Linked DNA regions of Homo sapiens. The protein of the gene in region 2 interacts with the protein of the main gene of each other region in a biochemical or structural test. Each region holds a gene or a part of one and is shown on either strand. Other genes may lie near its edges.

Region 1 (3,500 bases), on a different chromosome or scaffold from region 2:
CAGTGAGCTGAGATGGCGCCACTGCACTCCAGCCTGGGCAACAAAGCAAGATTCTGTCTCAAATAAATAAATAAATAAATAAGTAAATAAATAAAGAAATAATAAAAGCCAGTTCCTCTAGTCAATTATTTTAAATCTTCTAGTTCAAAAATTTATCAGATGTATGAATCTCCTTACAATTTTCCTAGGCAAGTGGCCATTCAGCTTCTACTTGAATGCTTCCAGTGGTAGGCAACTCATTTCCAGAGGCAACTGGGCTTACATTTGGACAGCTTTCATTGTTTGAAAAATTTAATTAATTAATTAATTTATTTTGAGATGGACTCTCACTCTGTCGCCAGGCTGGAATGCAGTGGCACAATCTCGGCTCACTACAACCTCCGCCTCCCGGGTTCAAGCAATTCTCCTGCCTCAGCTTCCCAAGTAGCTGAGATTACAGGCGCCCGCCACCATGCCCAGCTAATTTTTGTATTTTTAGTAGAGATGGGGTTTCACCATGTTGGCCAGGATGGTCTCGATCTCTTGACCTCATGATCTGCCCGCCTCAGCCTCTCAAAGTGCTGGGATTACAGGCGTGAGCCACTACCCCCGGCCGAAAGTTATTTTTTATAATGAGCTAAAGTCTACTTCTCTTTTACTTTATTATTTTTTATTATTTTTTTGAGATAGGATCTCACTCTGCTGCCCAGGCTGGAGTACAGTGGCACATTCATAGCTCATTGCAGACTCTTAACTCCTAGGCTCAAGTGATCCTCCGACCTCAGCCTCCCAAGTAGCTGGGGCTACAGGTGCATGCCACCATGCCTGGCTAACTTTTTTTCCGGCTAATTTAAAACATATTTTTTTTTTGTAGAGAAGGGATCTCACTCTGTTTCCCAGGCTGGTCTCAAACTGCTGGCCTCAAGCAATCCTCAAGCAAGCCTCCCAAAGTGTTGGGATTACAGGTGTCAGCCACTGTGCCGGGCCTCTTTATTTACCTAGGAAAACTTGCAGCACTGAGGTCCTTGTTCTTTAAGTGGGCTAGAGAAAGGAACTTGGGAAGTGCTGTCTCTCTGCAAAGAGAGAAAAAAAAACCCCGTTCTAAGGGAGAGATTGCTAACCTCTTGTGTGCGGAGCTAAATAAAGACATGACTTAGAACACAAAACCAGAGAGGACCTGAAGAGTCAGTCCTAAATGCTCCTGACCCACCCTCTAGTGCCCCTGGAGAGCTCTGATGGTGCAGCAGGTTCCTACCTGGGTCCAGCTCCACAAGGATGTTGTCGGATTTCAGGTCTCTGTGCGCGATGCCCTGTTGAACCAGATGGTCCACGCCTTCCAGCAGCTGCAGCAGCATCATGGCGGCGAGGCGGGGGCTGGGTGTGTTCACACAAAGGTACTGGCGCAGGGTACAGGGATAGCTGGCGGAGAGGGGAGAGGGCCTCTGGCTACCACACATCGACGACTCCCAATACGTTTTTTTTTTTTTTTTTGAGATGGAGTCTCACTCTGTCGCCAAGCTGGAGTGCAGTAGCACGATCTTGGCTCACTGCAACCTCCACCTTCCAGGTTCAAGCAATTCTCCTACCTCAGCCTCCCGAGTAGCTGGGATTATAGGTGCCCGCCACCACACCAGGCTAATTTTTGTATGTTTAGTAGATACAGGGTTTCATCATGTTGGCCAGGCTGGTCTCAAACTCCTGACCTCAAGTGATCTACCCACCTCCGCCTTCCAAAGTGCTGGGATTACAGGCGTCAGCCACCATTCCCGGCCTCCTAATAACCTTAATCACTGTTAGGGTTAGGCCGTTCCTCTTCCCCTTCCAGGAGCACTTTGATTCCCACTTTTCCCCAGCATCCTTTCTGTTCCCTCCCACTCACCATCCTCAAATTAGGAAGTAAGAGTTGGGGCTCCCTATATTCAAAGTAATGGTGCAGATAATTATTTCCTTAAAATAAAATACCCACTATAGCAAAGTTAGGGGATACAGAGGGTGAGGAAGGAGAACGGTTTTTATGTTAAAAACAGATAAGTCCAGCCACAGAAAAGGTTAACAGTCAAATGGACCAAAAGGACTAGGTGACAAGTATGTTCTGGATGAAGATGAGAGTTTGTTTCCATGAAAAATCGTCCTACAGGGAAAATGCTCTCCAGGGCAGATATGTTCCCTTTGCATGGCTTTCTTCTCCGGAAGGGTGATGACCCTGTTCTCCAAAACCCCCTGATCAAGGTGCACATGGAGGGCAGGAACCAGCTCCCCTTGGGAGATGTATCAGCTCCAGGCCCTGCCGCGCTGCTGTCACTTACTTCTTCATAACGAGGAACAGCGTCCGGCCATGGCCCAGGCCTTCAGGGTGGAGGCGTGAGGGCAGCACATCAGGGTAGTCGACCAGGGCCCCTGGCAGCAGCGGCACGGAAGAGGTGAAGGCGCGGAGAACCCGGATGATGTTGGGGTGAGGGGCTAGTTGCTTGGGACCTCTCTTGGATTTTCTAGTCAGCCAAGTGAGACAAACATATGAGGCCAGCATCAGATACAACACCTGGAAAGAATAACCTAAGGCCACACCAACACTGGCACTGACATTCATTATTCACTTACTATCAAATGTTTATCATAGATTTGCTATGTGCCAGGTACTGTACATGGTGTTGGAGAACACATCTGATGACTCCCCTACCCATCCTTCAATCCATTTGTCCATCCGTCTGTCCGTCCGTCCATCCGTACACCCATCCATCCTATCCATCCCATGTGGCAGAACACAGGTGGAGAAACCCTGGTATCAGACTGCCTGGGTTTGCATTCCAGGTCTGCCACTGTAAGTCCTTGGCTGAGTTGCAGTAGCCCCAACCTTATCCACAGTTTTGCTTTCTGCAATTTCAGTTATCTACAGTTTGAGAATAGGTGAGTACAAGAAGATATTTAGAGAGAGGAGAGAGAGAGAGACCACATTCACATAACTTTTATTACAGTATATTGTCATAATTATTCTATTTTATTAGTTATCTTTAATTTTTTACTGTGCCTAATTTATAAATTAAACTTTACCATAGGTATGTGTGTATAGGAAAAAACACAGTATATATAGGGTTTGTTACTATCTGTGGCTTCAGGCATCCACTGGGGGATCTATCTTGGAATGTGTCCCCTCTGTCCTTATCTTCTCTGGGCTCAATCTCCAGGGTGCAAGGGGAATGCAGTGTTAACACGCTGCATAAGGTTGTCAAAGTGTGGAAGGCACCTAGAATCGTGTCTAGCACAGAGGAAGCTCTCAGCTGCTATTAGCTGTACTATTATTCATTCAACCAATACGCACTGTTTGCATGCTGAGTACCAGACATCATGCTGGAATGCTGTGGAACTATGGCACAGAACAAGACAGAGTCCCTGTCCTCATGGATTTGCAGTCTATCAGGGGAGAGAGATATTCATCAATGAGTAATCATGTGAGCTCCCTAAGAGCAAGGACTGTGCCTGAATTTTCTCCATTATTCCAAGTCTAGTACAGTAGTTGGCATAGA
Region 2 (4,035 bases):
CTCTGCATTTTGTCCCTTCTCTTTATGTTGTACCTCAATTCATCTTTTTTTTTTTTTTTTTTTTGGTCTCTACTTCTCTGCTTCCACTCTCTCACCCTCTTCCTCTGCTTTTTTAATCTCTTGCAGTCCAGTAACTTGTGAGGAACTGAAGTTAGGACTGTGAACCTGGGATAAAACACATGGCCTTACTGCTTGGGGCCAGCTTTTCTGAGCTTGCAGGCTTTTTCCTATCTCTCCTAGCCAGGGGCTTGGGGTAGAGAGCATGCTGGAAGAAATCTCTGAGTAAGTGGCTGCTGTAATGAACTGACAGCTGCAGCTGCTCTCTGTGGCTCACATTAAATGCTGTGGCCTGGTGTACGCATACCAAAAGTCAAGCAAAAATTGACCCACACTTATCATAAACTCTTTAAAGGAGTGTAAAAGATGAGCCCCTTCTGTGGAGATGGCTCTCACCGTCACTGATCTGCCTCATGTCCTGGCTATTTTGGATACTGTGGATCATTTCCAGAAGGATTTCTTTCTCTTGCTCAACAGCAGTTGCTGCTTCTCTCAAAGCTTCAACCCTATAGAAATTGGGAAAACAAAACGGTTATTGTATGCAGGATGTTCTTCCTATTAATTTTCTTTATCTCTCATTCAACCCAAATCAAGTTTAAAGATCACCAAACTTTTCAAAAATTCTTCATTTCTGCTTTAAAATTCTTTCATTTTTCTATACACTTGCCTTTCTCCCATTTTCCTCCCAGCTCATAAGGCAATCATTCTTTCGTGTTTATCTAATTAATACTATTTGTTTTTTACAAGATCTGTATTATTTGTATATTTTGAATTTATATCTCATTCTGTTTTTATTTTTTCACTTAGCATCCAGGTTGCTAGATTTTTGTTTGTTTTTTGTTTTTGAGACAGTCTTGCTTTGTCACCCAGGTTGGAGCACAGTGGCACAATCTCACCGCAGCCTCCACCTCCCGCTTTCAAGTGATTCTCGTGCCTCAGCCTCCAGGCCCGGCTAATTTCTGTAGTTTTAGTAGAGACGGGGTTTCACCATGTTGGCCAGGCTGGTCTCAAACTCCTGGGGTTTCACCATGTTGGCCAGGCTGGTCTCAAACTGCTGGCCTCAAGTGATCTGCCCACCGCAGCCTCCCAAAGTGCTGGGATTACAGGTGTGAGCCACCACACCCAGCCCCCTATGTGTACTTCTAATCAGTTGCTGCTAATTGCTGTATAATACTCCATGTGTATACCTACCTGATTTTCCCTCTCCACTCTCCCAGAGATGGACACTTAGGTTGTCTACCAGCTTCTCATTACTACAAATAACACTTCTATGAATACATCTCCCCTTTGGACCTTGGTGAGGATTTCCTTAGGACATATACCAGGACAGAACTGCTAAGACAAAGGGTATGTGTACTCTGCTTTTGACTTAGTATTATGACTATTCTGCAGAACACCTGTACCTATCCACTCTCCACAGCAAAGCACAGGGGTCCCCATATCCCTACCAACATTCTGCATTTTCCAACTTTCTATTTGCTGCCAGTGTGACAGAAATACACTGATATGTCAGTGTTAACTTGTGTTTTCCTAATAATTTCAGACATCTCTTTGTATCCTTGTTAGCCTATTCATAGACTTTTCCTATTTTGCTTTTCTATTTTTAAACAGGAGTTACTGTTCCCTTGTTGATTTGTATACTCAAGAGATTCTTGTTGGTTACAGACATTGCAACCATCTCTCATCCTCTCATATATGAACCACGTCTGGGATGTCTTGCACTAAAGAGAGACTCTTATTTTGATGCGATCAATTTTTTTTTTTTTTTTGCCTTATGGCGTATGCTTTTGAAGTTTTGACCTAAGGTCTTCCCCCACCCTTTGGTCCTATTTTCCTATATTTTCTCTTATTAACTTTATAGTTCTACCTTCCTTATATTTATGTCTTTAATCCACCTAGCATCAACCCCTGCATGCAGTTAGGTAAGAATGTTTTGTTTTTTTCTTCCAAATAGCCATTTTCCCCAACATTATTTACCAAGCAATCCATCTTTCCCCTAGCGAATGTATATTCGCTATTTATCTCTAAAATCTCTATGCCATGCATTAGTGTATTTAACTGTTCTTATACCAGTGCCAAGTTTTGGGTTTTTTTTTTTAATAGCACTAGCCTTGTACTACACTTTAATATTTGATAGAGCAGGTCCCTCAATCTTCTTTAAAGATAACTTAGCTATTTATGGACTTTTACTTCTCCAACTTTTCCATATAAATTCTAGGGTAAGTTTATTGTGTTTCTCAAAAAACAAGAGAAATTAGACATCTTTATAACATCTCTCTGTTTAAAGGCATGATATATGTCTCTTCATTTATTCAGATCTATAGAGTTCCCATGTATTCTTCATAGTAGTCTTCGTGGATATTGCTGCTATTGTGAATTTGTATTTTCTACTTGATTTTTACTGGTTTGAGAAGTGCTGTTTTTGTAGGTTTATCTTGTCACTGGCAACCTTGATTTACATGTATTCATTTTAGTGTTCAGTCTGTTGATTCTGTTGGTTCTTCTAGGTTAATAATCATATCCATATCATCTGCAGTTTTTATTTCTTCCTTCCCAATCCTATTACTTTTTTTTTTTTAAGAAAAGGTCCTTCAGTACTGTATTAAACAGTGGCAATCATGGGGGTATCTTTGTCTTTTCCCAAATTTAAGGGAAAATCTCTGTGGCTTTTTTGTGTAAAGCCCTGATCAAACTATAGAAGCACTACTTTCCCACTTCACTCAATTGCACACACATGCACTCACACTATACACACACATGAATATACCCAGTCACTAAAAAACTAAGCTGTGGAATAAGGGCAAAATAAAGAAATATATATTGTATATTTAACATGTTCTATACTTCCAGGGAACGTTGTTATTATGAATTACAGTAACTAAGATGCCAACTTTTGCAAAATGAAAGTGACAGACCTATTCCCAGTATTTGGATGGTCTTAGAAATACAAGTTCATGAAAGATCTAATCCTAACTGCTGTCTTAAGTGTGCACAGAAAGAACAACTTCACCAATGTTTTAGCACGTTCAATTCCATAAAAGGATCCTCTCCCTGCCCTAAGCACACACATGCCTTTTCCCCTTCGGTTACCCACCTGTTATACCCCAAAATAGTACTGACAGGCTGTAAAATCACAGGATATCTTTATTCTTCAAGATATTAAATATATGTCAAAGTGTGTTTATAAGAGCCAGTAAAAGCAAAGAACTGGGAAGAATCGCATGTGACAAATTTGGCTAGAGAACACAATCAAAATACAAATATTCTACTAACTAATAGTAATGCAAGTATCAGGCCCTATTCCAGGACCATTCAGTATTTACTTAAACATTTTACATTAGCAATCTCTCAGAAAGATAAACTAGGGCCCAGAACATAGGAAAGAGACGGAGTTGGCACTAAATATTTATGCTAAAAGCACAAACCATGACTCCAATATTTAGACAAATGACACAGGTGAATCATGTGATTGATAAATGAGAAGATGCTGAAAGAAGAGATTAATTTTTCAACACCTTTTCGGTTTGTATTCAATTGTAAGATGATAAGAGAGAACAATGCTATTCTGAAAAGGAAGGTTTCATTTATGAGTTACAGCAGTAAGTTCATGTTCTTAACAAAATAGATAAAAAAGACATTCTAGAAAAAATATAATAAGCCTGTCATATGACGAAAATATTTTATCATTAAATGAGACCAAATAGTTAGGTGGAACTGCTAAAGTTTGTGTTTTAGGGACCCTCCCCCACCCCCATCCCACAAGGCTTTTTTTAATACATAATAGAAATTACCAGGGCATTATCCCTGTGAAAACCAGATTTCATCATTTATAGAACTTCTTATATACATTTTTATGTATACCTTTTTCATTTCATGCAAGGGTAAAATGTCATTCTTCAAAATGTAAAGATCTCAGGGTTTATTTGGCAACATGGGCTTTTCATGTCCTATTCCCTCTTCAGGTAGCATTCTTTCTCC

Evidence for each region.
Region 1: the proteins of BAG2 (region 2) and PINK1 form a complex in vitro, tested with the Homo sapiens proteins (2 studies listed by BioGRID).

What each region holds. Positions count from the first base shown.
Region 1 is NC_000001.11:20,643,458-20,646,957, reverse strand, and holds part of PINK1 (serine/threonine-protein kinase PINK1, mitochondrial precursor), read right to left. Parts: intron 2,469-3,500; coding exon 2,286-2,468; intron 1,399-2,285; coding exon 1,235-1,398; intron 1-1,234. UniProt on the Homo sapiens protein: Serine/threonine-protein kinase which acts as a sensor of mitochondrial damage and protects against mitochondrial dysfunction during cellular stress.
Region 2 is NC_000006.12:57,178,560-57,182,594, reverse strand, and holds part of BAG2 (BAG family molecular chaperone regulator 2), read right to left. Parts: intron 564-4,035; coding exon 454-563; intron 1-453. UniProt on the Homo sapiens protein: Co-chaperone for HSP70 and HSC70 chaperone proteins. Acts as a nucleotide-exchange factor (NEF) promoting the release of ADP from the HSP70 and HSC70 proteins thereby triggering client/substrate protein release.